Linked DNA regions of Homo sapiens. The protein of the gene in region 2 interacts with the protein of the main gene of each other region in a biochemical or structural test. Each region holds a gene or a part of one and is shown on either strand. Other genes may lie near its edges.

Region 1 (5,076 bases), about 110 Mb from region 2:
ACAGAATTCATTTGCTTTTGCCCTCTCTAGCGATCTTGAAATTTTGTGTCATTAGGAAAACTGGAGCTTAAGCTGCCCTTTGTTAACTGCGTTCACTCCTCGTAGGGAAAAGCTGCAGGTTTTTCAGGAGGCCTCCCTCATCGCCTGACATGCCTTCTTTCCAGCCCAGCCAGGAGCAGAAAAGGGCCTCTGACCTCTGCATCACAAGCATCTGGCAGGGTGTGCTCATTAAATATTTGAAAGAATGAATGAATGAATAATGAATGAATGAATGAATGGGATGTTGCATATCCTCCACTTGAGCACATATCACACCCTGTTAAGATATCTTTTGTCTGTCCCGTGTCACCATTCTGATTCCTTGAGAGCAGGAATTGGATCTTTGTCTCGGCATCTCTGTAATCCGTCCAAAGCCTGGCACAAGACAGGAGCCCCAGGAATATCTGATGAATATGTGAAGACCTAGAATTGATCTCTGGGCCTCAGTAAAACTCTTAGGTCCTGTCAATTTCACACCCAACCAAATGGCAGCAGCCCCAAGTAGTTTCAATAAGTGGTTTTATTACTGGTTAGATTTTACAAATTCTGATATTCGAACAGACTTCCACCTTAAAATTCTAAAACAACAAAGCGACCGTTGGAGGGGGTTTGATTTTTCCTTTTTTTTTTTTCTTTTTTTCTTTTTAGGACTATTCAAAGTAACAAACTTTTTTTGTTGTTTTTTTTGTTTTTTACATTTTTGCTCTGGTCATAAATATACAGAGAAAAAGAGGGAGAGAAAAATGAACAAGTCATCCAAAGTATGGAGATAAAACAGTATTCCTAAGGCACGTGGCAGTCTTTGAAAATACAGAAGCTCTAGCCAACTTAAATTATTTGTTGTTTTTCCTCGCTCAGTCCACAAAACTGTACAGTGACACAAATGTTGTGTTGCAGGTAGATCTTCCAAGTTGTTCCTCGGTCCACACCGCTGCATTAGCCGGGCGCACACTTCTTTTTTTTACCTCTGTTTCCAGGCGAGATCCTAAAATGTGGTTAGTTAGTTGCTCAAAGCCTCTATTTTAAAATACACTTGGAATTCAACTAAAGATAATTTCTTTTTTAAAGAAATTGTGGGGTGAGGGGTTGCGAGTCATTAGAAAAGGTTGGTAAGAGTCGTTTGTGAGGGGCTGTGAGGCTCATGGCCCTCCAGGTTGCCAGGCACAGAAGTTAAGACGGACGTCACAGTTGGCAGGGTGGGGCTAGTCAAGTCTGTCAGGGTGGTGGGCGTGCTGGAGGGGCTGAGCGAGGCGTTGGAGAGCTCCGAGGCCGGGCCCGATGGCGTCCCTGTCTGCAGCGCCGCGTCTGTCGACTTGTCCACGCCCGTGTTTTCCTGCCGTAAGAGGTTGCGCCTGAACTTGGCTCGGGCGTTCTGGAACCAGACCTGCGGGGGACGACAGGGAAGGGCTGGTGAGCGGAAGGCAGGCAGAGCATCCCCCCGACTGCTTCACTCAGAGCTCTGCTGCCTCTGGGGACGCTGATCTGTGTTTTGCCAAGAGGATCCAAAAAGTCAGGTTGGCAATATTTTGCTTTTTTGGTTTTTTTGTTTTTGTTTTTGTTTGCAGACAGGGTCTGGCTTGGTCCCCCAGGCTGAAGTGCAGTGACACAATCTCGACTCACTGCAGCTTCTAACTCCTGGGATCAAGCGATCCTCCCGCCTCAGCCTCCTGGGTAGCTGGGGCTATAGATAGGTGAGCACCACCGGCCCCGCTAACTTTTTAAGTTATTTTTTGTAGAGACGGGGTCTTGCAATGTTGACCAGGCTGGTCTCAAACTCCAGGCTTCAAGTGATCCCTCCTGCCTCAGCCTCCTAAAGCGTTGGGATTACAGATGTGAGCCACTGCACCTGGCCAATATTTTGCTCTTAATAAAATAAAACAAAAATTTCACTCTATCTAATGGGCTACGGCTGGGCTTCTCTTTCTGATAGGTGGTTCCAGAGCTGAGCTGTACTCCCGAATATCACAGCCACGAGCCACGTATGGCTGCTGAGCACTTAAAATGGCATTAGCCCAAATTCAACCAGTCTGCAGGTGAAAACACACAACCTATCTGAAGGCTGAATATGAAAAAAAAAGCAGGTAGAATATCTCAATAATTTTTATATTGATTACATGTCGAAATGATTAATAGTTTGGCTATACTGAGTTAAGCAAAATACATTATTAAAATTAATTTTACTTTTACTTGTCTCTCTTCATTTCTTCAAGGAGGCTACTAGGACATTTAAAACTTAAAATTAAATGTGTGCCTCATGTTGCATTTCTATCAGACACACCAAACACACACACCAGACAAATCTTGATCCTTTTCCTAATGGTTCTTTGAGACATTCCTTTTTTTTTTTTCTTTTTCCTTTTTTGGCAGTTGCCTTTCAGCAGACAATAAACCCCACAAGTTCTTGTTGGTAAAATGTTTTAAATGTTTTGTGGTCAGTAAGTCTGGGAATGCGATAAAGAACACATGAGAATCAGGCAATAATAATGAGTTACTAAGAGGAAGTGAAAGACACGGAACCTATCCCCATCATCGGTTGGGGGAGCCACCAGGTACCCTGGGCCACTGGGTGTCAGGTCTCAGGGTGGAGGTGGGTGGAGGTAGGCAGCGTGGGAACGGCAGCCAAATTAAAGTGAGGCCAGGGAAGTTGAAACCCGCAGAGTCTCTCTCCCGACCTGCTGCATCCCGTATCGACTTATGAGGGACGTGCGGCGGGGCGCAGAGCTGGGGCTGAGCTCTGTCTGAAAAGAATGTCAGTGAGAGAACATGGGTTTACTTTCATTTTTCCTTGGGCACAGACACACACGCGTCCACTCCCATATCTTTGCACACACGCCTGTAAGCATTCAGGAAGACACACAGAAATTCATCTAAGGACGGGCACAGTGGCTCAAGCCCGTAATCCCAGCACTTTGGGAGGCCGAGGCAGGTGGATCACTTGAGGTCAGCAGTTCGAGACCAGCCTGTCCAACATGGTGAAACCCCATCTCTACTAAAAATATAAAAAATTAGCTGGGTGTGATGGTGCGCTCCTGTAACCTCAGCTACTCGGGAGGCTGAGACAGAAGAACTGCTTGAACCCGGGAGGCGGAGGATACAGTGAGCCAAGATCCCACCACTGCACTCCAGCCTGGGCCACAGAGCAAGACTCCATCTCAAAAAAAAAAAAAAAAAAAAAAGAAAAGAAAAATGAAATTCATCTACACAGCCAGCACCTAAGTACCACCACCCATCTAACAGCACAAACACAGGGACCCGCTGTACCCAGAGGTCCACGAAGTACTTTGGGAGGGGCTTAGGAAATCCAGGCCACTCTGGGGGGGTTGAACCTTCCAAGGAAAAAGTCCTGAAAGGCAGGGCCCCTTCACTTCCCTTTGCGTGAGGAAAACACCCGCCAGAAGCCTCCCCATAAAACAAAGGGCCTCAGGGCACTCTGCAGATTCTGGGGTGTCCAGTTGCGCATTTCCAGATGTCCTGCATCTGCCTGTCTTCCCAGTGTCTCTGGCAGGAGAGGGAGGGCTGACTCCTGGCCCCACGCACCCCTTGGGACCACCCCGGCTGCAGGGGCCTGTGGCCTCAAACCCCCGTTTCTGGTGGCGTAACACAATTTGGGCTCAATTAAAAGCAAATCCACAAGAATCTTGGAGTAAAGTGGGAGATCCAGACCCTGTGAAGTGGAGAAACCAAGCTCCCTCCTCAGTGCTGGATCTTCCCAGGAAGAAGGCACATTTTCCCTGGCTCTCCGCCCAAAGAAAGCCCATCACCCCTTCTGGGGGCTGGCAAATAAGTACAGTGCTTCTCAGACCACCCTTGACATGCTTTCCCTGGGGTGGGGGGGTCCTTCCCTTTCCCGGCCAGCAGAAATCTGTAGGGGAGAGACTGTGTCCTGGTGGCCTAAAGAAAATGGATGGGGAAGCCCCCAGAGGCCCTCAGAGAGAGGAAGTGACTTCCCCAAAGTCATGCAGATTGGGGTGGAGAAGGCCGGAGCCTTGGTGCCGCTGCCTTGCCACTGTCCTGGCCTGTGTGCGTGTGACCCCTGAGCAGCCTGTGCTCTGTGCGTCTGACTCTCAGAGCAGTAGCTGGAGCGGGGAGCCTGGGTCGAGGGTTTGAGGGTGCTTTGCCGGGTGCTCATTTGCTCATCCATCCGGGGCTCCAAGACCTCGGGCAGGGCTGGACCCGGTTAGTTGCCGGCTGTTTGCTATTTCTCAGGCTGTTGCCCCTAACAGTGGGCTTGTAAACAATGACACCATCGTCCACAACTACCTTCTCTGCTTTCCAGAGCTGAGGCACTGGGAATCTGGTAGATGAAAATTCAACAACTTCATTAAAAGCCCGGCTGCTCTGGGGTTGTGTGGGGTTTGTTCTTCATGTTGTCAGGGCTTCACTAGAATTCTCTCCCAGGTATTTCAAAAAGTCCACTCCTGAGAGTTTGATGGGAGCAGGGACCCTTTCTATGCTATCTTCATGTCCCCCGGTGCATGGCAGAGACTGGCAGAGATTAAGAATCAGTAATATGTATTCATAGGAATGGCTGACATGTATGTACCTTTTACTATGTGCCAGGCTCCATGCCACCCTCCAGCATGCACTGCCACAGGTTATTCCCATGAAAAGCCAAGTAGGTGGATTCGACTATTATTATTCCCATTTTATAGATTTATTTATTGACTATTATTATTATTATTATTATTTTTTGAGACAGAGTCTTGCTCTGTCACCCAGGCTGGAGTGCAGTGGCACGATCTCAGCTCATTTCAACCTCTGCCTCCCAGGTTCAAGTGATTCTCTCCTGCCTCAATCTCCTGAGTGGCTGGGATTACAGGCACCCGCCACCATGCCTGGCTAATTTTTTTGTATTTTTAGTACAGACGGAGTTTCACCATGTTGGCCAGGCTGGTCTTGAACTCCTGACCTCAGGTGATCCGCCCACCTTGGCCTCCCAAAGTTCTGGGATTATAGGCATGAGCCACCGTGCCTGCCCTCACTGTATAGATTTAAAAACCAGAGAGGGTCAGAGTGGTAAAACCACTTGCCAAAGGT
Region 2 (5,836 bases):
CACAAGATGCTGCTCCTTTTCAGGCATTTGCAGGAAGAAATTGCTCTCCTGCAGTATTCATGTAACCACTAAACCCACAGCCACAGGGTGTCCCCGGGGCTTACCTTTTCTGTTCAGTGTTTGATGCCCTGTGGTTTTTCTCTCACAGAGACCACAGTCCAGTCATCATGGCACACATCGTCTTCAACGTATTGCTCAAAGGCCTTTCTCAGAGAGTGAGGTCTGCGATTCTATAACTGCACTTTCTTTTTTTTTTTTTTTACTGTCATTGTTTAGAAAGCTTGGGATGACTGTATTTATTAGGAACTGCAAGGAAGGATTATATAGATATACACAGATATACGGTTAAATATTGAACTGAAATATTAACTATCCCAGATGCTAATAATTAAATCAGTGCTACAAAACCCCCAAAGTTAAGGGCCAAGATCAATTTCTGGGACACTACTGACCCAACATTAATGTAGGCAGAACAGCAAGGAGACGATGAGGAGAAAAATAAAACATGAGGCCAGAGTCTGTAGCATAGCTCATTTTATTGTTTAAACAGTTTTTGCATAGGAAATATATCCGCTTCCAGTAATTGACTGCAGTATGAGCAGCTGCTAGCAGTATAGGCTGGATATAACAGTAACAATCACATTAAGTCAAGCTTGATTTACACCAGTTTAAAACTTGTGGCAATTGAGTTCATTTGCAACCCACAAAAAGTACCCAAAGAACGTTATCCTCCAACCGGGCACAATAAAACCTTCACTAACATTCTGGCCCAGTCTGGGGTTGATCCCAGAGGCCTGAACTCTAGAAATTAAGTAACTGTCGTATAATACATCCTACTGCTAAAGGTTTGTTACATGGAGATTGTGCATGTGCCTCCTTTTGTAAAAAAATTTAATTAAAATACAAGGTTCTGTATTTATGGCCCATGAGGACAAAATGCCAAAAGTTTTAAAATGGATCAACCCTGGTGTGTAGCTAGCAAGCAATAACTGACTACTCGTCACCTACAGTTGTACTAAATGTATCTAAAGAAACACACAGTCCTACAAAAGTTGTTCTCAGAGAAATATCATTGAGGTGGGGGCAGCTCTTCCCAGGATGCTAAAAGTTCTATATGATATAAGCACAAATTAACAGCTTGATGAAGACATAATCTACTGCAGCTTTGAGAAACCTATGCCTGGGATGTAGTTACCCCTCACATTCTACAATGTTGTAGAGATTTTTTTTCCCAAGAAAATGTCATTTGAAACATATTTACAACTGAACTCAACAGAGACTGTGAAATTGAACAGGCACTGCTCATTTGTTTGAGTTTTTTGGTAAACATTTTGCTGGTTTTTTTTTTTTGTTTGTTTCTTTCTTGTTTTGCATCAACTTTTATCAGTCCATGCAACTTCAATGCCCTCGATGAAGGATGCATAAAAAGCCATACTTCTTAAAAAAAAAAAAAAGAAAAAAAAAGACTTCCTTCTGCATAAAGAGATATATTTGCCACATCAGTCCCTGTAGCACAGTTTTCAAAACCATTCTGTCAAAAATACAGTAATACAAGACTGGCTTTAGTGTCACTAGCTTACACTGCTTTTCATGTATTTAGGCCACCTGTTGTTCCTGGTACTGTATCATGCAATAAGTCATCAAGGGCTTAGTCTAGTGTACCGGTAAGCTAGTGGCACTGAAGCGCTTTTCACAATCTCAACATACATTTGAATTGCAACACACAGATATTTCTAGAGTATTAACTAGTGAACCCTTTTATTATTAAAAAAAAAAAAAAACTACTTACAACCATTGAAGAAAAAATTGCAACAAAAAATGTAAAAATTGACCGTCTCCAACTTGTCCCCTTTACTATTAACAATGTGACCAACAGATCTGTGGCACGGACACAGTACAAAGAGTTGTCATGGCAATGAGTTTGGCTGATGCAAAGGTCATTGTGCAGGGTCAAAGGGCAAAATCAGTGGTCCATGTTACCCCCCAACTGCAGGGCTCCACTCCACCCACACAATTTTAGGGAATTAGAAAAAACAGGGGAACTACCAGAAAGTGCAAAATATGAAGAAGGCAGCTTTCAGCTCCTTCAGCATGGAGTAGAACATTCATTTTTGAGCTTTTACTATTGAACTTGAATAGCCTGCACATTAAAAAAAAAAAAAAAAAAAAAGTTTTCTATAGAAACCCAATTTCTTAAAGTCCAGAAAGCATGCAGCTGGTTAATGTTAACAAAAGACCTTGACAGGAACATGTAAACTATATTGAATGTCATGCTTGGGGCCTATCTGCCAGCAATATTGTAGAGTTGTTTCATTAAAAATGAATACTGTACACTGAATATGGGATAACTTTCTGCAGCCTTCATCATTTCACACAGTACATAGAATTTGAATCTAGGTAAAGAACATGTCCTGCTGTCACACCGCTGAAGATGTCCCTGTGCAATCTCTTTCGTTGAGTCCTTATGAAGCTACAAGTCACAAATCCAAGATTCTGCTCCCTGAGGACACGTTATGTGAGACATAGCACTGTTTTAGTTTTCTGCCTATCCTGAATGCTCTGTGAAACTTAACCTTAAATACCATCACGTAACAATCACAAAAACTTTTGCTAAAGGCCGTATATACTAATAAAAAGACAGTGGTGCTTCGACATTCTGAAATGCTCTGGAAACCAACTTTTCCAATACTAAATACAACAAAATAACCTTCATAAAATATAACTTTTCTCCATTTACACTTTTTTAAAGGATTAGTATCCTATGCTTTTCAAGCACAGGAATCTGTGAAATAACTCCTAACATGGACAGATTTTCTTTTTAATACATAACTTAAGAGACTGGAGAGTTTTAACTCAAGTCCAGTCTCTAAACAAGGAATATTCTTGTTTACTTTAAAAATGGAAACAACATATAGTTCCATTATAATTGTTAAAAAGTTAGCTTTACAAACATGGGAATTTTAATTTAAAAAAAATTCTTAACAAAACTATACAGTGTACAAATTACTGTCTACAAGGTAGGCGGTTCATTAAGAAGACCTTTCGCTCTTCTCGCTACTTGCAGCTTCACAGATTCATTCACATATTTTTTAATGGAGCTGCCCACCCGAACATTACCCGATAACTATATTGCTATAATTAAGATTTTTGCCATGTCTTTATGTACAGTCTCCTTCACTGCCTTTTATTTTTTTCCTTAGACAAGCCTCAAATGCTCACGTCACTCCAGGGGTAACACGCTTCAGAGGCACTGTGAGTGGTGGGTGGCAGGGCAGCACACAAAGGCTGAACAGTGCCACGGAACTGATGGTTGGAGACACCACTCCCTACTCATGCCCTTGGGTGACCTTCGCCATCCTGAAGCTCTGCAGTTCTGGGTAAGGGAGGGGCGTGCAAGACCTGCAAAAGTGGGGCCCTTCGTCAGAATATACTTCCTGGTACACGAGGAGGAGGCCGAAAAGTTGATTTGAGATTTTATATATATAGTAGTACTTTTAATAGTTTTATCTCAAAAAGGAAAGAAGAAAAAATTGATTTGAAATAAAAAAAGCAACACTTGAACTAGGCCTTTGTATTCAAGAGGCAGGCAGGAATACCCACAGTGTGTAACTTGGTTAGCTAGAACTGCTCACTGGCAAAAAAGAGAGCGAGTCTGCCTTTAAAAAATACTGTGTGTCCTGTGAGGTTCATTTGTTCACCTAATAGGTCAAAGATACATGAAGAGCTTGGCTGAGATGATCTGTTTGCTACCAGGGCGAGTATCACAGAAATGATTGGACTTACTTTTGAACTTGCACTGCTAGGATCCCGCTGTGCTGTTCAGCATTTGGGCTATCAAACTGAATGGGCTAATCAAATACAATTCTCCAGCCCATAAGCATTGTTCTAAAGTATTCATTATTAAATGATATGCTGTGAGAACAATTGACAGTTTATTTTATTAGGCCATGGCCTAGGGGAAGGGGGCCAGGGGACTCCTTAAGACAGCCTACCATGTGTCACCAATTCTGAAAGATTTTCCTTCTAGTAATGAATACACTCAATGGGACTGGGCGGTGAGGGAAAGGCAAAATAAAACCAGCCTCCATTCAGCCTCTAGCCCTCAGGGGAAACGAAATCAAATATATAGTTAAGGTACCATTCCTTAAAAAAATCCCATCAGCATCTAATGGGTTTAATTCATCCACAGGAAGATTAATTGCTTAAAATTCTATATTTCCCTTCTGCTCTGGTTCTCAGTTTTAAAAGGGGAGATAAAATGAAAACAGGATTTACTTTTTTGTTCCTTAAAAATTGAACTTTGATTTTAATCTATCAGTCCAAATACATTCAACAATAGCAACCCTCTGTTCAATCTTCTGGATATTAAAAAAAAATCCAAGTGCACTGCCATCCATTTGAAGTAGTAAGTCACAGGTAAATCATATCCTATCATTAATGAAATGAAATGGGGACGAAAAGTGGCAGAAAAGGAATACGGGAGACTCCCTCCAACAGGTCTAATGTGTTTTCTAGGAGAAAGAATATTCATGTGTTAAACTCTCAAAAGTGTTAAACATCCAACATCCCCTATGTGGACATTTCAACAAATATTTTTGCCAAATATGAGACAGGCTCACTCTCCACTGTGGATCTGGAACTTTCAAGAAAAACTATCACCAAGCCAAGTCTGCCTTTTTAAGCCAAGTCTGCCTCCAGGAGAATTTGTTGTGTTTGCTTGTTCTTACTATTGTGTTGTTATGAAAACCAGTAATGAGTTCAGCTTGCAACCCAGGTGGGAAGTTAGAGAGGGGAACCTGTGTAAGTTGAAGTTTGTCACAGTAGGCAGAACAGTCGCTTTGCAGCCCAGGCCCATCTCAGGGTGCACTGCTTCACAGCTACACTGCAAAGTGTTAAAAATCCTCCCACCCACCCCAGAATATATATATATGTATATTAAAAAAAATCCCCTGTCCATCTCTCAGTACACAAAAGGACCTCATCACACTGCAAAAATAGCAGTACCCACTTTGGTCAATTAAAACAAACAAACAAACAAAAAAGCATACATTATTTTTTTTTTAAATCTGTGTACTTACCTATAATAACCAATACAGCTAAAAGCACTACCTACATAGGCAAAACTTGGTATTGCATAATTCGTATAAATTTGAAACCCCTCCCCCCCAAATATTAATTGGAAGATGAAAAACATGAAAGGTTAATAGAAAAAAACACCAAAATACTGAAAATATTGCTGGTCGATTACAATTTTTAAGCGGCAACTATACACAGCCATGATATGCTTTATAAATGTGAGATAAAGGTATAACTGTCTAAAAAATCCATGATGTCACACATTTTTCTTCGTCTGGAGTACAAAATATTTTGTCATAAAAATGGTAAAGATTTAAAATGATAATAAATGCAGCAAAACAAGTGTAGTGATGTCACTTTGTTGTATTTTTTTGTTTTTTTTTTTTTGTTTTTTGTTTTTTAGATTTCAAGGCAAGGCACGTAATGTGGACATTATATCTTCGTGCAAATTAGGATTACTGGAAAGAGTATTTTTAATTAAAATTTTAAGAGACATAGAGGCAAAATGTGTCTGCCCATGCACACTATGGATCTGTCAATACAAGAAATTTGTTGAACAAGGCTAATGTCTGAAAGCACCATGCAAGTTTTCAGCACCCTGATTACATTTGTTTTCTCAAGAGTGCGTTTTTATATCCTACACCCTGGCGTTCCCAGTTTGTAAACTGTAAGCTTTACCCTTGTGACATGGATTTGCCTGCCTCTTTGTCTCTATAATGCAGATTTTATAGAACCTTTTGTACACCCTATGGGTTCTTGA
Region 3 (5,018 bases), on a different chromosome or scaffold from region 2:
TGCATTTATTCTTTTTTTTTTTCAACTTTTATTTTAGGTTCAGGGGGTGCATGTGCAGGTTTGTTACATGGGTAAATTGCGTGCCACTGAGGTTTGGTGTATGAATAATCCTGTCACCAAGGTACTCAGCATAGTACTTGATAGGAAGTTTTTCTTTTCTTTTCTTTTCTTTTTTTGAGACGGGAGTCTGGCTCTTTTGCCCAGGCTGGAGAGCTGTGGCATGATCTCAACTCACTGCATCCTCTGCCTCCCGGGTTCAAGCGATTCTCCTGCCTCAGCCTCCTGGGTAGCTGGGATTACAGGCGCCCACCACCACACCTGGCTAATTTTTGTTTTATTAGTAGAGACGGTTTCACCATGTTGGCCACAGGCTGGTCTTGAACTCCTGACCTCAGGTGATCCACCCACCTCGGCCTCCTTTGGTGCTGGGATTACAGGCGTGAACCACCGTGCCGGCCTGTGATAGGTAGTTTTTTCCACCCTGGCTCTTCCCCTGTAGTGGTCCCCAGTGCCCAGTGTCTATTGTTCCCATTGTTATGTCCACACCACATTTATTCTATGAAGCCACAGAGTGGGCAGAAGCCTGGCTTTTGGGTTGGAAATGACTAGAAGTCACTAAAAAACAATTGGCCCAACACATAGAAATGATGAATACTTGAGGTGATGGATGCCCTAAGTACCCTGACTTGATCGTTACACACTCTATGCATGCAACAAGATCTCACATGGACGCCAGAAACATGCATAAATATTATGTATCAATAACAAACACAATGATCCACAATTACTGGGTTTTTTTTTTTTTAAGAGACAGGGTCTCACTCTGTTGCCAGGCTGGAGTGCAGTGATGCCACCATAGCTCACTGCTGCCTCAAATTCCTGGGCTCAAGGAATCCTCCCACTTCAGCCTCTTGCAATTACTGAATTCTTCAATTATAATGCTTAACATTCTTCGTGCACTTACAGTATACCAGGCACTGTGCTGAGGGTTTTGTGGTCTATTATGTTACCTAATTCTCTCACCACCCCATACAAGGAAGCTGGCTCAGAGAAGGTTGTGTAACTTGCCTGCAATGGCCCAGCCGACAGGCCCAGGTCCTGGGATTTCAGATCACACAGTTGCTCCCGGATGCCCACTTGCCCTCCCAATGGCATGCCTGGTTTTCCTGAGCCTCACCATTAGGGAGCTTGAAGGGGTGGATGTTATAATTAATAGAAGTCCAGGGGGCTGAGTGAGTGGGCCAGGGGCAGAGAGGGACCTGGGGTCAGGGGCCCAGCCCCTCAGCCTGTGGGCCCAGCACCTGCCCTCACATGGCTCTGATGCTGGGTGGAGCCGGTCAGACTCCCTGCTCTACCTGCCACTTAGGAGCTTGGCAACTTTAGATACCTCTGCACCTCTGAGCCCATTTCCTCACCTCTTCCTGGGGATAAAGGTAACGACTTCCCAGACTCAGGAAGACTGCCTGAGACAATGCGTGAGGAGCCCCATTAGTGGCTGTTTCTGTTGATATCATCATTTTCACCTTCCTGCTGGTGCTCCTAGGGCTCTGGCCGGGAGGCTTCCAAGAGTGCCTTTCTAACACCTGTCCTCACAGCTCCAGTAAAGCTGCGCTGCCTGCACTCCCTGTGCTAAATTGCAGACTGCCGCCTGCTGTGGGATTACGTGTATCAGCTGCTCCTTGATACCCGATATGAGCCCTACATCAAGTGGGAAGACAAGGACGCCAAGATCTTCCGAGTTGTGGATCCAAATGGGCTCGCCAGACTCTGGGGAAATCACAAGGTGAGCCTCGGCCAGCAGAATGGTCTCAACATAACCAGAAGGGGACAGAGTTGGGGGTCAGAGTGGACCCCTAGCACTATGGGACAATCCTCAGCTGATGGGGCCTTCATCAGCAGCCCCAAAAGTGACAGGATAATTTTATTTGGGGAGCTATTGAGGGACAGGCAGTTACCTCTTATGGATGGGGAATGTCTCTGAAACTGAACAATTGTGTCTTCTCATTGCTTAATCTTACCTTTGCTTAGTATTTCAGGCTTTAGAAGCATGTTTACATGAACTGCACAGTTAGGCCAGATGAGGAAGCTGCTTTCCTGCGGGGAGCTGGACAGAAACCCAGGTCTCAGGCCCAACAGGAGCATCTGATGTCAGGGCTGGAAAGGCCTGGGGATGACTGAGGCCAGCATTCCCATGATGAGGAATGCCTATACCTAAATGGGTGTCTGTAAGATGATCTTAGGTGGTTTAATATCCTCATAATTATTTTTGAATTAGGATTACAAAATGTAACTACCATGACCATCTCATGATTTACAGCAGTGATATAAGGAATGTAGCCTTTTAAAATAAATAGGTTTCTTTAAGTAAAAAAAATCTTTTAAAGAAAACTATTAACGATAATGATAATCATCGATTTATAGCCTTTCCTAAGATGTAATGTGCCTGATTGCCAGGCACTGCCCTGAGGGCTCCACTTGTACTAATTCATTTAATCCTCATACCAAGCTCGTGAAGTAGGTGTTGTCGGATGTGGAGACTGAGGCTCAGTGAGGGCTAACAACTTGCCCCAAGTTTACCCATCCCCTGCTATGTAAGAGGCAGAACAGGGAGTTGAACCCAGGCCATGTGCTGCACTATATTATACTGCTCTTAGCAGTGCTGGTGGCTGGAAGGATGCAGATGACTAAAGTTCGGGAGGACTTATTGGTCTAATCCTCATATAGAACAGGGAGGAAAACAGGCCCAGAGAGCAGCAGTCCCATTTAATGAGCATATACTACATGCCATACACTGTGCTAACTGCTTTCATGGATTAGCTATTAATAATTTAATCCTTGACTTATGCGATGGGTGTTCTCCTTTTCATTATGTAGCTGGGGAAGCAGACTCAGAGAGGTCAAGAAACTTGTCCAAGGTGACACAGCTGACAAGCGGTGGAGCTGGGGCTTAAATTGATGCCACACCCCAGGCTCTTTGGCCCTACCTCACACTGCCTACCCCCGAGAGAGAAAGAAATGACTTGGCCAAAGTCACCCAGGGTGTGGCCTGGCAAGGCCATCCATGCCACCCCACCATACTGTCTCTCTGATTGCATTTCCCACAAATATATATATTTATTTGTTACTGTTGTGACATTTGCTGTTTAAAAGTAACATGCAGTTCACTCCCACACTATGTTCTCAGCCAAGTAGGCAGGAGAACCTTTCCATCATTTCCTTCCTTCCTTCCTTCCTTTCGCCTTCCTTCCTTCCTTCCTTTCTTTCTTTTTGTAATGGAGTCTCAATCTTTTGCCCAGGCTGTAGTCTAGTGACATGACCTCGGCTCACTGCAACCTCTGCCTCCTGGGTTCAAGGGATTCTCCTGCCTCAGCCTCCTGAGTAGTTGGGACTACAGGCACGCACCATCACGCCTGGCTAATTTTTGTATTTTTAGTAGAGACAGGGTTTCACCATGTTGGCCAGGCTGGTCTCAAACTCCTGACCTCAAGCGATCTGCCCACCTAGGCCTCCCAAAGTGTTGGGATTACAGGTGTGAGCCACCCTGCCCAGCCCCATCATTTCTTCCCCAACCTTCCCCTGCCTTTTTCCTTCCAAACTCAAGTGAGCACTCATAAACCCTCACAGATCCCTGGAATGAGAGGCTTAAGAAGCTGTCCAGTCCACCCTACTCCCTTCCAGGTGTGGAAGGAGCAGGACATGGGGAGTGGGGCTGATGTGGGGCTGCTTTGCTTTCCAGAACCGGGTGAACATGACCTACGAGAAGATGTCTCGTGCCCTGCGCCACTATTATAAGCTTAATATCATTAAGAAGGAACCGGGGCAGAAACTCCTGTTCAGGTGAGTGGCCTAGGGGATGTGGTGAAAGGGGAAGCAGAACTGGGGTTGGGTGGGCTGGAATCCCCCTGCAGCTGGGGCAGGAGCTGATTTGCAGTTGGGGCCTGAATTCTAGATTTCTAAAGACTCCGGGAAAGATGGTCCAGGACAAGCACAGCCACCTGGAGCCGCTGGAGAGCCAGGAGCAGGACAGAATAGAGTTCAAGGACAAGAGGCCAGAAATCTCTCCGTGAGGGGCAGGTGGACTCCAGGCACCCGGTACCGATGGGGCAGGGACCGAGTCTCCCATGAAGGCAGACTCCTCCTCCCAGCAGAGCAGCAGGATCCCCAGCCAGACTCTGTACCCACAGGATTACAGCCATTGCTTGGGAAGGCTGGGAGGCCTCCCATCCAGGACACTGGGGGCAGGAGTGTCATCTTTTGGGCAGGGCAATCCTGGGGCTAAATGAGGTACAGGGGAATGGACTCTCCCCTACTGCACCCCTGGGAGAGGAAGCCAGGCACCGATAGAGCACCCAGCCCCACCCCTGTAAATGGAATTTACCAGATGAAGGGAATGAAGTCCCTCACTGAGCCTCAGATTTCCTCACCTGTGAAATGGGCTGAGGCAGGAAATGGGAAAAAGTGTTAGTGCTTCCAGGCGGCACTGACAGCCTCAGTAACAATAAAAACAATGGTAGCTGATGTTTCTTTCTTTTATTTTTTTGAGACAGTCTTGCGCTGTCACCCAGGGTGGAGTGCAGTGGCACGATCTCGGCTCACTGCAACTTCCGCCTCCTGGGTTCAAGAGATTCTCGTGCCTCAGCCTCCGGAGTAGCTGGGATTACAGCTGCCCACCACCACACCCGGCTAATTTTTGTATTTTTGGTAGAGACACAGGGTTTCACCATGTTGGCCAGGCTGGTATCGAACTTGCGACCTCAGGTGATCCTCTTGCCTCAGTTTCCCAAAGTGCTTGGATTACAGGCGTGAGCCACTGCGTCCAGCCGATGTTTCTTAAGTGTTTGCTATGTGCCAGGCCTTGTGCTAAGGGCCTTGTGGATATCTTATCTCATTTAATTCACTCGGCATTCAGGCGTGAAGATGAGGACACTGAGGGAGAGGCTTGTGGAGCTGGCCCGCCTCTCCACAACCCAGGGCTTCGACCTGTTTTCTTTCAGCACCTCTGACTGTATGTGGATGCT
Region 4 (7,042 bases), on a different chromosome or scaffold from region 2:
GGGAGGAAGCAGGGCAGAACCAGGGACAAGGAGGCAGAGTCATGAAGACTGGGGTGGCTGTGGCAGTTTCTTAAAATAAGACAATAATGAAGTTTGCCACATTGATTGACTCTTTTATTTATTTATTTATTTTTTTGGTGAGATGCGAGTTTCGCTCTTGTTGTCCAGGCTGGAGTGCGGTGGCGTGATCTCGGCTCATCACAACCTCCACCTCCCAGGTTCAAGTGATTCTCCTGCCTCAGGCTCCCAAGTAGTGGGATTACAGGCATCTGCCACCAAACCTGGCTAATTTTTGTACTTTTAGTAGAGACGGGGTTTTGCCATGTTGGCCAGGCTGGTCTTGAACTCCTGACCTCAGGTGATCCACCCGCCTTGGCCTCCCAAAGTGCTGCGATTACAGGCGTGAGCCAGCGCACCTGGCCCAATTGATTATTCCTTTCATGAAAGATTTCTCTATGGCATGTGATGCTGTTTGATAGCATTTTACCCAGAGTAGAACTTCTTTCAAAATTGGAGTCAATCCTCTCAAACCCTGCCGCTGCTTTATCAACTAAGTAATGTAATGTAAAGTTATGTAATATTCTCAGTCCTTTGTTGTCATTTCAACAATATTCACAGCGTCTTCAACAGGAGTAGATTCTATCTCAAGAAACCACTTTCTCTGCTCATCTGTGAGAAGCAACTACTCACCCAATCAAGTTTGATCAATAAATTGCAGCAATTTGGTTGCATCTCCAGGCTCCACTTCTAATGCTAGTTCTCTTGCTATTTCTACCACATCTGCAGTTCCCTCCTCCAATGAAGTCTTGAACCCTTCAAAGTGATCCATGAGGGCTGGAATCAGTTTCTTCCAAACTCCTGTTAATGTTGATATTTTGACCTCCTCCCATGAATCATGAATATTCTTAATAGCATCTAGGATGGTGACTCCTTTCCAGAAGGTTTTCAATTGACTTTGCCCAGATCCATCAGAGGAATCACTATCTATGGCAGCTGTAGCTTTATGAAATGTATTTATTAAGTAATAAGACTTGAAAGTCAAAATTACTCCTTGACTTCTGGGTTGTAGAATGGATGTTGTATTTGCAGGCATGAAAAATATTAATCTTCTTGTATATCTCCATGAGAGCTCTTGGGTAACCAGATGCACTGTAATGAGCAGTAATATTTTGAAAGGAATCTTTTTTCTGAGTAGTAGGTCTCACCTGGGCTTAAACTATTCCATAAACTGTGAAAACAGATGTGCTGTCGTCCAGACTTTGTTGTTCCATTTACAGAGCACAGGCAGAGTGTATTTAGTAGCACTGGCTTCAACTTAAAGTCACAAGCTGTACTAACAAGACTCAGCCTGTCCTTTGAAGCTCTGAAGCCAGGCATGGACTTCTCTTCTCCAGCTATGAAAGTCCTAGATGGCATCTTCTTCCAGTAGAAGGCCGTTTCACCTACAGTGAAGCTGTTTGACGTAGCCACCTTCATCAATGAGCGTAGCTAGATCTTCTGGACAGCTTACTGCAGCTTCTCCATTAGCACTCGCTGCTTCACCTTGCACTTTTATGTTATGGAGATGGCTTTTTTCTTTAAACCTCATGAACCAACCTCTGCTAGCTTCACACTTTTCTTCTGCAGCTTCTTCGCCTCTCTCAGCATTCAAAGAATTGAAGAGTTAGGGCCTTGCTCTGGGTTAGCCTGAAAGGAATGTTGTGGCTGGTTTGATCTTCTATCCAGACCACTAAAACTTTCTCCATATCAACAATCAGGATGTCCCACTTTCTTATCATTCATGTTTTCACTGACGTAGCACTTTCATTTCCTTCAGGAACTCTTCCTTTACATTTACATACTTAACTGGTATAAGAGCCCCCTAGCTTTAGGCCTGTCTCGGTTTTGGACATGCCTTCACCGTCATCATTCTAGCTTTGGATTTAAAATGAGAGATGCGCAGCTCTTCCTTTCTCTTGAACACTTTATAGGCCACTATAGGGTTATCAATTGGCCTAATTTCAAAATTGTTGTGTTTCAGGGAATAGGGAGACCCAAGGAGAGGGAGACACAGGAGAGCAGTTGGGACACACACAACACTGATCAAGTTTGACACAGGAGAGCAGTTGGGACACACACAACACTGATCAAGTTTGCTGTCTTATACAGGTGTGGTTCATGGTGCCCCAAAACAATGACAATAGTAGTATCAAAGCTCGCTGATCTCAGAGCACTATAACAGACATAATAGTAAGGAAAAAGTTGGAAATGTTTGAGAATTACCAAAATGTGACATTGAAACACGGAGTGAGTGTGTGCTGTTGGAAGAACAGACTGGCGCTGACAAGACTTGCTCAGCGCCAGGTTGCCACAAACCTTCGATTTGTAAAAACCACCAATTAATTGTGAAACGTAATAAAGCAAAGTACAGTAAAATGAGGGATGCCTGTATGAGGTGTGATAAGGTAACCACGTGACACAGGCCATGCCAAGGCTCCCTTACTTCTCCCCTTCTTCCTGCCATGATTCTAGCTGGAAATAACCAACCTTCGGAATTTGTACCTTCAGGGTATCGGGTTATTACAGCACACACAGCTTTCACCTCTTCCAAAGCCCACCACTAAGCAAAGCTGACAGCCCACAGATTATCAAATGTTTATGTGCACACAGCATCACACTGCACACAGCACACCCCCCACACACAGAGAAAAGGAGAGTTTCTGTGACAAAGTGCTCAGGTAAGAGGAAAACCACTGAAGCCTCACTGCTGCCTGTGGAACACCCTGAACCCCACAGTTGTCCTTCACTCCTGAGGCCGAAAGGAATTCCACAGAATGCCTGGCTGTTGAGAGCCACGCTGTTTCTGGCTGTCACCTGGAAGACAAACTACTGAGCTGGTGCTGGTGGGTGAGTTTCTGGGGCACCCCCTGAAGCAGCTCCCAGGGGAGGGAATCTGAGAGTCCAAATCTGACACTGACATACCCTAATCCTAAACCACCCCTGGCTTCAAGATATCCTATCTGATCTCAGGGAATCCGCCTGGGTGAAACCGGCTGCAAGAACTCAACTCTGAATAAGTACCACACCCCTGACTACCACCCGGGCCCCTCTGGTGTCTCCCTCATTGCCCCTTCTCTCCCTCCCTGTTGGCCACCCATGGCCATGCCAGGAGCAGAGCCCACACTCTGGGAATGTGAGGGAAGTTCAAAGTGGGGTCTGAGTCCCGAGGCTCTACCATCTCCCAGTGTAGCTGGTGACCCCCTTAGTTTTGCGTGGTTTAGAGGACTGCCTGGTGCCCCTCCTCCTCCTTTGACCCGAAGGCCCTCTCTGAGCCAGGTCCCTTTACTTCCACTCTCCTGCCCTGGGTCCAGATGCTGCCTGTTGCCTCCCTCCCCTCAGGACCATTTCTGGGCTTCCTGGCACTAAATCATCACAGCCCCACCCTCACAGCTTGGCTGAGGACCAGGCACCCTCACTGCCTAAGGCACAGGTCCTCTTGTAAAGATCCTGGCTTTCCTACGCCTTCCCACCTAGTTTCAGGCCATGCTGGTGGCTTCTGGCTCCTGGTCGTGCCCTCTGCATCCATTTGTTGGGCATCCACCCTTGATCCTTCTCTCACGCCCTCAGCCCCACCGATGGGAGCCACCACTCCATCCACATTATCCACAGGGCTGGCTGAGCTGACTTCCTCTGAGACAGGGCTGGCATCTGCCTCACTCTGTTCTGAGAAGGTGATCCAGGCTCCCAGGGAACACAGACACCTAAATCAGAGTCAGCCCTGGCCTGGCTTCGGACCTTTCTCACCCTGACAGTTGTAAACACACAGGAGGCCAGGGGAGGAGATGCTCAGATCATCTACCCTGGCCCTGCCTCTCAAGATACTCCCCTGAGCTACATCAGGAGCTGCTGTTTCTGAGCCATTTGCTCAGCAGCCCTTGGTCACTGGACAGCCTTGCTTAACTGGAAGATGCCTGATTTAAGAGCACACGTGCTCACTCTGACCTATATCCTGATCCCCTGGCCCTCCCCCTCCGCAGTGGCGCGCGTCACCACCAGCTCACAGGCTTGAGCTGTCATGAAATCCTGGGCAGAATCCAGTCCAGAGAAAGCGTGGAGAGGACAGTGGCCCAGAGCTGCTTTCAGGTGCTCCATGGACGGCCATCGTGATCAGGGACACTGCCTTCTCGCAGCGGGAATGCATTTCATTTGAGAGCATGGATTCTGGAGGCAGACACTGGATCCAAAGCCACCTCTACCACCTATTGGCTGTGGGACCCTGGACGAACTACTTTACCTCTGTGCCTCATTTATCTCAGCTGGGAAACAGGATGATAATAATAGCACAGGCTCAGCATCCCAAATCCAAAAATTCCCAAATCCCAAATCCTCCAGAATCTGAAACTTTCTGAGTCCTGACATGACACTCCAAGGAAATGCTCATTGCAACATTTTGGATTTCAGATTTTCAGATGTGGGATATTCAACTGGCAAGTATCATGCAAATATTCCAAAATCTGAAAACATCTGAACTCTGAAATGCTTCTGGTCACAAGCATTTTGGAAACAGGATGCTCAACCTGTATCCACGTGACAGGGCTGCTGTAAGTGTGGATACAGGCAATGCATGTAAAGCATCTGGAGCAGTGCCTGGCACACGTGGGGAGCCCGTCATATGCTGCCGCGGCTGCTGCTAATGACAACAGGGACAACTACGATGAGATTACAGAGGCAGGGGACGGGTGCAGCTCCACGGTTAACAATGCTACCAGGTGTCCCCAGCTCACAAAGCCTGTCCATGGTCCCATTTTCCACACATGGAACCTGGCCCAGAGAGCAACCGCCCACAGTCCCACTCCTAGGAAGCAGGGTAGCCAGGAACTGAATGCAGGTCTGTGAACCTAAAACGAATACTCTTTTAACCTCTGCCACTAAAATTGCATCCAATTTTCAAGGGGAAGGAGAAATATGGTTTCCCAGCACCTACTACGCCTTTGCACTGCAATTGTCAGCTGGACAAGAAAGAGCATCTGAATATCTGATTTAAAGGAAAAGGCTGCTTTCTCTTTGGGACTAATAACAACGAAGGCTTTTTTGGCTCTGCAAGTTTGCTGTCCTCTCGCCAGTGCTGTGGACTGGGGCTTTCTCAGAGTAGTGCTGCTTTCAGCGAAGCAGCTGTTTGGGGTGGCCCCTTTGTTTCTTATTACCTACGCTATGACCACAGCTCCACACTGACATGCGATGGCGGCATCAGTTGACATCTATTTTCTTGTTAACAGAACACAAGTGGCTCCTTATTAAGCGCCCCCAGAGAAGATTCTGCCATAAAAATTTCATAAAGCCCAAGCGCCTCCCGAAATGTAAACTGGCCCGCTCAACTTTCCCTTGGAAATCGCTGGTGAGATCTGCTTTGTCGGCCAGTGTGCGTGTTCCACCTATGGTCACTTTAGGCCGCTAAAAGCAAGAAACCAATCAAGCATCCCACTAGAGTCGACAAACCAAACCCTGTCTCATGTGCACCCCTTGGTCTGAGGATGGAAAAGCAGCTTCCCTTCACATTTACACAGTGACCTCGGTACGAGTCATAGGACAACGTTTTGAGGGACAGAAGGAAGTCTCTTTAGTTGCTCTTCCTTTTTTGCTAAGCCACTGAAGCTGGCTGTGGCTTAGATGACAGGAATGACTCTTACCTGTGCGGTGAAGAAGGCTGGGGTGAGGGATCCCGAGGGGAGGGCTGGGCTGTTGAGGGCGATGGAGCCGATGTCGGTGCCGGAGAGCACCAGCGGGGGCGCTGAGATTTCCAAGCCTTTGGGTTTTTTGGCCTTTGGGGGAAGAGATGGAGACTTGGTCTTGGAGCCCGATGACAGGTTCAAGGGCTCCAGGGAATCGGAGTCATGGCAGGCGGCCTCCAGGAAGAGGCTTCTGTGTTCAGAAGGGAGGGGTGAGTTGGGGGACAGGGACGGGGACCGAGATGAGAAGGGTGAGGCGGATGAAATACTGGCAGCGTTTGGCAACATTAAAGAGGAGATCTTGGCCGAGACGGACGAGGCCAGGAAGGCGGACGCCGCCGCAGCCTCTGACGTGGAAGGCAGGGACACCACCGGCCTGGTGACGTGCTTGTCGGTTTTATTGGTCACAAACCTGATCACAGTCCTGACTTCTTCCACGGGGGGGCTGTCTTCGGGCGGCTCCTCCAGCTTCTCCGTCTTGATGGCCTTGAAGGCGTCTGGTGGGTTCTGCAGGGAATTAATGGTGAAGGACGAGTACAGGCCTGAGTGGATGTATTCGTTGCGGCTCGTGCTTCTGAGGGCGGCCAGGCCGTGTTTGTGGGCCTCGCGGCCCTCCGGAGACGCCTTGCAGTCGCTGTCCTGCAGCAGAAGGCTCTCCCGGCTGATCTCCACCGCGTGAGGATCCATCTTCAGGATCTCCGGGAAAGAGACAAACTTGTACACAAACTTCTGCCCGATCACCTTCTTGATGATGTTCTGCAAATACAAAAGTAGACGTTGAAAATCTGAGTGCACCCGAGAAACCATGTAAGAGCTCATGATAATGGTAAATGTCGCTGGCAGAAGCACCAAAATGTTCCTGATTTACATTCTTGGCTAAGGAAAAGTGGAAGGAGGAATGAAGTTGGAAGTAGAATTAGATGTGCATTCCAGTTCTGCCATTACTAGATCTTTGTGATCTTTGGCAAATTAAGTGCCACTTTGAGTTTCCTCGTCTGTAAAGTAAGGAAGATGATGATGATGATGATGATTTCTTAGACAGGGTCTCACTCTGTCGCACAGGCTGGAGTGCAGTGGCACGAACATGGCTCACTGCAGCCTCAACCTCCTGGACTCAAGCAATCCTCCTGCCTCCACCTCCTGAGTGGCTGGGACTACAGGTACATGCCACCACACCCTGCTAATTTTTACATTTTTATTTTTTGTGGAGACAGCATCTCACTTGGTTGCTCAGGCTGGTCTCAAACTCCTGGACTCAAGCAATCCCCCAACCTTGGCCGAGTGAGGATTATTCTATGTAATAACATAGTAACAGCTGCCATTTATGAAGCCTTTAC

What was found.
Region 1: the proteins of NFIB (region 2) and LHX2 form a complex in vitro, tested with the Homo sapiens proteins (one study listed by BioGRID).
Region 3: the proteins of NFIB (region 2) and ETV7 form a complex in vitro, tested with the Homo sapiens proteins (one study listed by BioGRID).
Region 4: the proteins of NFIB (region 2) and ELK3 form a complex in vitro, tested with the Homo sapiens proteins (one study listed by BioGRID).

Annotation. Positions count from the first base shown.
Region 1 is NC_000009.12:124,028,767-124,033,842, reverse strand, and holds the end of LHX2 (LIM/homeobox protein Lhx2), read right to left. Parts: intron 1,424-5,076; coding exon 1,136-1,423; 3' UTR 542-1,135; downstream 1-541. UniProt on the Homo sapiens protein: Acts as a transcriptional activator. Stimulates the promoter of the alpha-glycoprotein gene. Transcriptional regulatory protein involved in the control of cell differentiation in developing lymphoid and neural cell types.
Region 2 is NC_000009.12:14,081,331-14,087,166, forward strand, and holds the end of NFIB (nuclear factor 1 B-type), read right to left. Parts: 3' UTR 518-5,836; downstream 1-517.
Region 3 is NC_000006.12:36,365,694-36,370,711, reverse strand, and holds the end of ETV7 (transcription factor ETV7), read left to right. Parts: intron 1-1,640; coding exon 1,641-1,783; intron 1,784-3,736; coding exon 3,737-3,837; intron 3,838-3,949; coding exon 3,950-4,067; 3' UTR 4,068-4,518; downstream 4,519-5,018. UniProt on the Homo sapiens protein: Transcriptional repressor; binds to the DNA sequence 5'-CCGGAAGT-3'. Isoform A does not seem to have a repressor activity. Isoform C does not seem to have a repressor activity.
Region 4 is NC_000012.12:96,246,359-96,253,400, reverse strand, and holds part of ELK3 (ETS domain-containing protein Elk-3), read right to left. Parts: intron 6,462-7,042; coding exon 5,667-6,461; intron 1-5,666. UniProt on the Homo sapiens protein: May be a negative regulator of transcription, but can activate transcription when coexpressed with Ras, Src or Mos. Forms a ternary complex with the serum response factor and the ETS and SRF motifs of the Fos serum response element.